Regions from separate parts of the Homo sapiens genome. Here region 1 is linked to region 2. Evidence: fine-mapped QTL for protein levels in blood plasma. A gene starts in region 2. The other region holds a variant in brackets. All regions are shown on one strand. Distances are from middle to middle. Region 1 overlaps GSR (glutathione-disulfide reductase). Region 2 holds the start of GSR (glutathione-disulfide reductase).

Evidence for each region. PIP is the posterior inclusion probability: the model's chance that the variant is causal. Protein levels are from antibody-based Olink assays in UK Biobank. Linkage for the fine-mapping came from a reference panel and not from the study's own genotypes, which makes the PIPs less certain.
Region 1: its variant is fine-mapped to the plasma level of the GSR protein (UK Biobank, PIP 0.98).

What each region holds. Positions count from the first base shown.
Region 1 is chr8:30,697,169-30,700,074 of GRCh38, reverse strand. All of the region lies in intron 6 of GSR (glutathione-disulfide reductase), which reads left to right. Among named protein-coding and RNA genes, the nearest start is that of GSR, 29 kb to the left of the region's middle. The variant A/GGA (reference allele first, on the strand shown) is at 1,211.
Region 2 is chr8:30,725,172-30,728,018 of GRCh38, reverse strand. GSR (glutathione-disulfide reductase) reads left to right here and starts at 173. Exons shown (of 13, transcript NM_000637.5): 1 at 173-489. The coding sequence starts at 184. RefSeq lists silencers at 1-2, 73-512 and an enhancer at 588-1,275.

The DNA of each region.
Region 1 (2,906 bases), 28 kb after region 2:
CAACCTGACCTGACCTCAGTGACTCATTCTTCCTTACTGTCTCCTGGTAACTTTTCTTCGTCTTCTCCTCCCAAGCATTTAATGTAGGCCTTTCCTGAATTCCCTCCTCTTACAGCTTCTCTTTTCATGACCTTGTATATCTCATTCCTAGAACTCCTCAGTAGATCCCTCAAATCTTTCATGCTTTCAATCAGAGGCCAAAGTCAAATGCAGGGTAATTTGAAGACTGCATAGCAAAGTCCTAAAACTGTCTTCTTTCTTCAACTTAATACAGCATCAATTAAGAATGTGTCTAAAGTAGCTTGTATTTTAGAATAGAATAGCTGGTTTTGGCCAGATGTGGTGGCTCATGGCTGTAATCCTAGCACTTTGGGAGGCTGAAGCGGGCAGATCACCTGAGGTCAGGAGCTCGAGACCAGCCTGGCCAACATGGTGAAACCCTGTCTCTACTAAAACTATGGAAATTAGCTGGGTGTGGTGGTGTGGGCCTGTAGTCTCAGCTACTCGGGAAGCTGAGGCAGGAGAATCACTTGAATTCTCAAGGCGGAGTTGCAGTGAGACAAGATCACACCAAGAAAGAAAGAAAGAGAGAGAGAGTGCCACCACGCCCCGCTAATTTTGTATTTTTAGTAGAGGTGGGTTTTCTCCATGTTGGTCAGGCTGGTCTCAAACTCCTGACCTCAGGTGATCCGCCCGCCTCAGCCTCCCAAAGTGCTGGAATTACAGATGTGAGCCACCACACCTGGCCAGATTTTCTTTTAATGAACAAACATTTTTTTTTTTAGAGACAGGGTCTTCTTCCATCGCCCAGGCAGGAGTGCAGTGGTGCCATCATGGCTTGTGGTAGCCTTGAGCTCTTGGGCTCAAGCAATCCTTTCACCTCAGCCTCCCGAGTAGCTGGGACTACAAACGTGCACCACCATACCTGGTTAACTTTTTAATTTAAATTTTTGTAGAGATGGGGTCTCGTTCTGTTGTCCAGGCTGGTCTAGAATTCCTGGCCTCAAGCAATCCTCCCACCTTGGCCTCTCAAAGCAGTAGGAATACAAGCATGGGCCACCGTGCTGAATGGATTTAGATTCATAGAGGGGCAAAAAGATCATGAGGAAGTTTGTTTCTCTGATTTGAAGTTGCTGTACATTGCAGGCTTTCTAGTTTAGAGGGATGCTCCTGTCACTTGTGAGAAGAGGTGATGCCTGGAAACAGGTGG[A/GGA]GGGACCCAATGTGTTGGCGCAGGGACTGGCCTTCATTCATCTTCTGAGTGGCACTCACTGTGGAGTTTGCATTGCTCAACTCTTCTGCTCCCTCAGGGGCTGTGCTAATCCAGTTTGAGGTCCTAATCCTATGCTTTTAGAAGGGCTTTTAGGGAGAGTGACTCATAGTCCATGAGCCTATCTTCACTTTGATTCACCCAGAGTCATGGACAGTTCAGACAGCACGAGGCAGTTCAGAAAGGACCAGGGAGCTGCTTTGCAGTTCCATAGGATGGTGAAAATGTCCCTTGAAGATACCTCAGACCAGGCAGGCTTCTGACTTGGAGGAGTTCTAAGAAAACCATACAATCTTTTTTGGTTTGCTATCAGGTCGCAGAAATGTGTTAGAGAACAGCCTTCCTTCCCTGTGATCCACCCTGCATTGTTTGATTTTAGGGTTGAGTGACATGACATATGTGAGGATGTAGTGAGACATACAGTCATGACTCATTATGTTTGGATAATGTAATTTCATTCCGGACTCACCCTCAAAGAAGTTTCATTATAAATAGCTGTTCATTAGCAATTTTAAATATTTACATTTATGCATGTCATCAACAAAAGGCTCTGAAACACAAGAAAATGAATTTACGATTGATACGTGATTCTTCAAGTCTACTTTATCTTTGTTACGGTGTTGGTGAATAAGTAATAACTGGGCAAGTACATAAATAATGTAGGGAAGATAGCATGATTTAGTTTTTGCACTGAGGGGGCTTCTGTTTGGATGGAGCATGAACCTTGTGGAATACTGTGCATGAGTAGTCCTGGGGCTGCAACGAGGTAAAGAGAAATCTTTTAGGGATTCAGCCGCCTGAAAGATCAGTTCCAGAAGCCAGGCACAGTGGCTTATGCCTGTAATCTCAGCACTTTGGGAGGCCTGAGGCGAGCGAATTTCTTGAGCCCAGGAGTTTGAAACCAGCCTAGGCAACACAGCACAACCCGATCTCTGCAAAAAAAATACAAAAATTAGCTGGGTGTGTTGGCACATGCTGGTAGTCTTGGCTACTTGGGAGGCTCAGGCCGGAGGATCACTTGAGCCTAGGAGTTCGAGACCAGCCTGGGCAACATAGGGAGATATTGTCTCTGCACAGAGTTTTTTCCTCTCTGAAGAAATGAGGCTAAAGAGCTTTAAAAACAATGAAAAATACATTTCCCTTCTGTGACGGGATATTAGGGATTTTTCTTTTCTTTTGAGATAGGGTCTTTTGCTCTGTCACCCAGGCTGGACTGCAGTGGTATAGTCATAGCTCACTGCAGCCTCCACCTCCCAGACACAAGTTATCCTCCTGCCTCAGCCTCTCAAGTAACTGGGACCACAGACATGGACCATCATACTTGGATAATTTTTATTTTTACTTTTAGGGGTTTTTTGTTTGTTTGTTTGTTTGTTTGTTTGTTTTGTTTTTTTGAGACAGAGTCTCGCTCTGTTTCCCAGGCTGGAGTGCATTGGTGCAATCTTGGCTTACTGCATCCTCTGCCTCCTAAGGGCAAGCGATTCTCCTGCCTCAGCCTCCCGAGTAGCTGGGATTACAGGCACACACCACTGCACCTGGCTAACTTTTTGTATTTTTAGTAGAGACGGGGTTCACCATGTTGGCCAGATTGGTCTCGAACTCCTGACCAGGTGATCCACCCACCTCAGCCTCCCAAAGT
Region 2 (2,847 bases):
GGCTCCGCCACCGGGGCGGGGAACTGGGAGGCGGCCCCGCCTCTGGGCATCCTCCTGGGTCTTGCCTAGCGGCGGGCGCATGCTTAGTCACCGTGAGGCTGCGCTTGCCCGGGGCCCGCGCCCCCCTACCCCGGGGACCGCCCCCGGGCCGCCCGCCCCACTTGGCGCGCCACTTCCGCGTGCATGGCCCTGCTGCCCCGAGCCCTGAGCGCCGGCGCGGGACCGAGCTGGCGGCGGGCGGCGCGCGCCTTCCGAGGCTTCCTGCTGCTTCTGCCCGAGCCCGCGGCCCTCACGCGCGCCCTCTCCCGTGCCATGGCCTGCAGGCAGGAGCCGCAGCCGCAGGGCCCGCCGCCCGCTGCTGGCGCCGTGGCCTCCTATGACTACCTGGTGATCGGGGGCGGCTCGGGCGGGCTGGCCAGCGCGCGCAGGGCGGCCGAGCTGGGTGCCAGGGCCGCCGTGGTGGAGAGCCACAAGCTGGGTGGCACTTGCGTGAGTACCGCCGGTTTGTTCGGGCGGGGGGCGCCTCTTTGTCTCGGTCTTTCGGGGGACAGCCTGTGCTCGTTCCTATGGCGATCCTGTCCCCCGGCGCTGGGCTTTCCTCTTTTCCACCCCCGCAACTCCCCATTCCGAAGCCAGGAACCCAGCAGGTGGAGGAGAGAGAGGCGTCCGGGGGCTTCTCTGCGGCCCGCAAAGCCGAGCCAGCGTCTGCTTCCGCACGGATGCGATATTGACCAGGGCCGGGGCGGGTTAGATTAACCTTCCTCCATCCTCACTTGTCCAAGTGGGAGAGGATTGGATTCTGTTCTTGACCGCGTGAAACACAAAACTGCATCTGGGAACATTGCTGGTGGCCTGTGTGTAGGGACGAGGGTGACGGTGCCATAGATCCTGGTTCTTGAAAAATGTAGATCCTGGTTCTCCCGTTTCAAGGGCAGAATGATTTATAGCGGTTGTTGTCAACCTTGGCTACACATTCGAATCACCTGAGGGTGCCTGGATTCCCGACTTAATTGGTCTGAGGTGCACTTGGGCTTTGGGATGTTTCCCGACTTAATTGGTCTGAAGTGCAGCCTGGGCTTTGGGATTTTCGGGTGATCTGAATTGCAGCCAAGGCGACCTTGAGTAGGTGAGTTCTCAGAGCTTTTGTTTTGTCTTGGTTTTATGTGGATTGCAAAACTAAAAACAGAGGGATGTAAATCCTGAGATTTACAAAATTCATAATTTTTGAAAATAAGGGTTTTTGTTTGTGTTTGTTTTTTGAGACAGGGTCTTGCCCTGTCACCTAGGCTAGAGTGCAGTGGCCATCATAGCTCACTGCAGCCTCGAACTCCCGGGCTCAAGGGATCCTCTCACCTTGGCCTCCTGAGTAGCTGGAACTACAGGGGGCTAATCACCACGCCTAGTTAATTATTATTATTTTTTGTAGAGATGGGGGTCTCGCTATGTTGCCCTTGCTGATTTCAACCTCTTGGACTCAACCGATCTTCCCGCCTCAGCCTCCCAAAGTGCTGGGATTACAAGCCTGAGCCACTGCACTCATTCTAAAAATAAATGTTGTTTCCAAGTTATTGGTGTGCCCGCCCTTTTCTATCACAAGATTTGGGTGTTGACGATTAAAATGCTGTATCCAAGAGGAACCTGGGATTTGGGATAGGTTCTCTAAATTCCTTTGGAGATGAATATTTAAATTATGTCAAATTGGGAGCTCTTTAAGGACAGGGATGGGCTTCTGTGTTTGTGTGTCTCTTATCACCTTAAAATCCCTTGCTCAATAAGCACTTGTGCAATGAATGAAACTAAAAATGGACAGTTATGAAAAGGTTGACTTCATTGTTCAGTGCCTTGGAGATGAACATGGAGATGAAGAGAAAGGAAAAATCTCTGTTAATTATCAACTTGCACTTTGACACCATAGTCCAGACAGAAGGTTAGAAATCTGTCTCTCCAGAAGGCAGATTGTGGGGTGCCACTAAGTGCCCCCCTCCCACACCTCATGAGAGTACTTGATCACTTCTCACTTCTGTTCTGCTCTCCACATTTTCTCTGTCTTCCTCTTTCTCTACTTATGTTATAATGTGCTTCAGAGGTTCACCCACTTTACCTTCCTGTTATGAATTCTTTTTTTTTTTTTTTTTTTGAGAGGGAGTCTCACTCTGTCACCCAGGCTGGAGTACAGTGGTGCAATCTGGGCTCACTGCAACCTCTGCCTCCCAGGTTCAAGCAGTTCTCCCGTCTCAGCCTCTCGAGTAGCTGGGAATGCAGGTGCATGCCACCATGCCCGGCTAGTTTTTGTACTTTTAATAGAGATGGGGTTTTGCCATGTTGGCCAGGCTGGTCTCAAACTCCTGACCTCTGGTAATCCACCCACCTTGGCCTCCCAAAGTGCTTGGATTACAAGCATGAGCCACCACACCCAGCTAATTTTTTATTTTTAAAATGTATTTATCTATTTTTTTTTCGATATGGAGTCTTGCTCTGTCACCCAGGCTGGAGTGCAGTGGTGCAATCTCGGCTCACTGCAACCTCCGCCTCCTGGGTTCAAGCAACTCTCCTGCCTCGGCCTCCCAAATTGCTGAGATTACAGGTGCCACTACACCCAGCTAACTTTTGTATTTTTAGTAGAGCCAGGCTGGTCTTGAACTCCTGACCTTGTGATCCGCTCACCTCAGCCTCCCAAAGTGCTGGGATTACAGGCGTGAGCCACCACGCCTGGCCTGTTTTTATTTTATTTATTGTTTTTTAGAAACAGGGTTTTGCCATGTTGCCCAAACTGGTCTCTTATGCCTGTGCTTAAGCAGTCGGCCTGCCTTGGCCTCCCAAAATGCTGGGATTACAGGCATCAGCCAC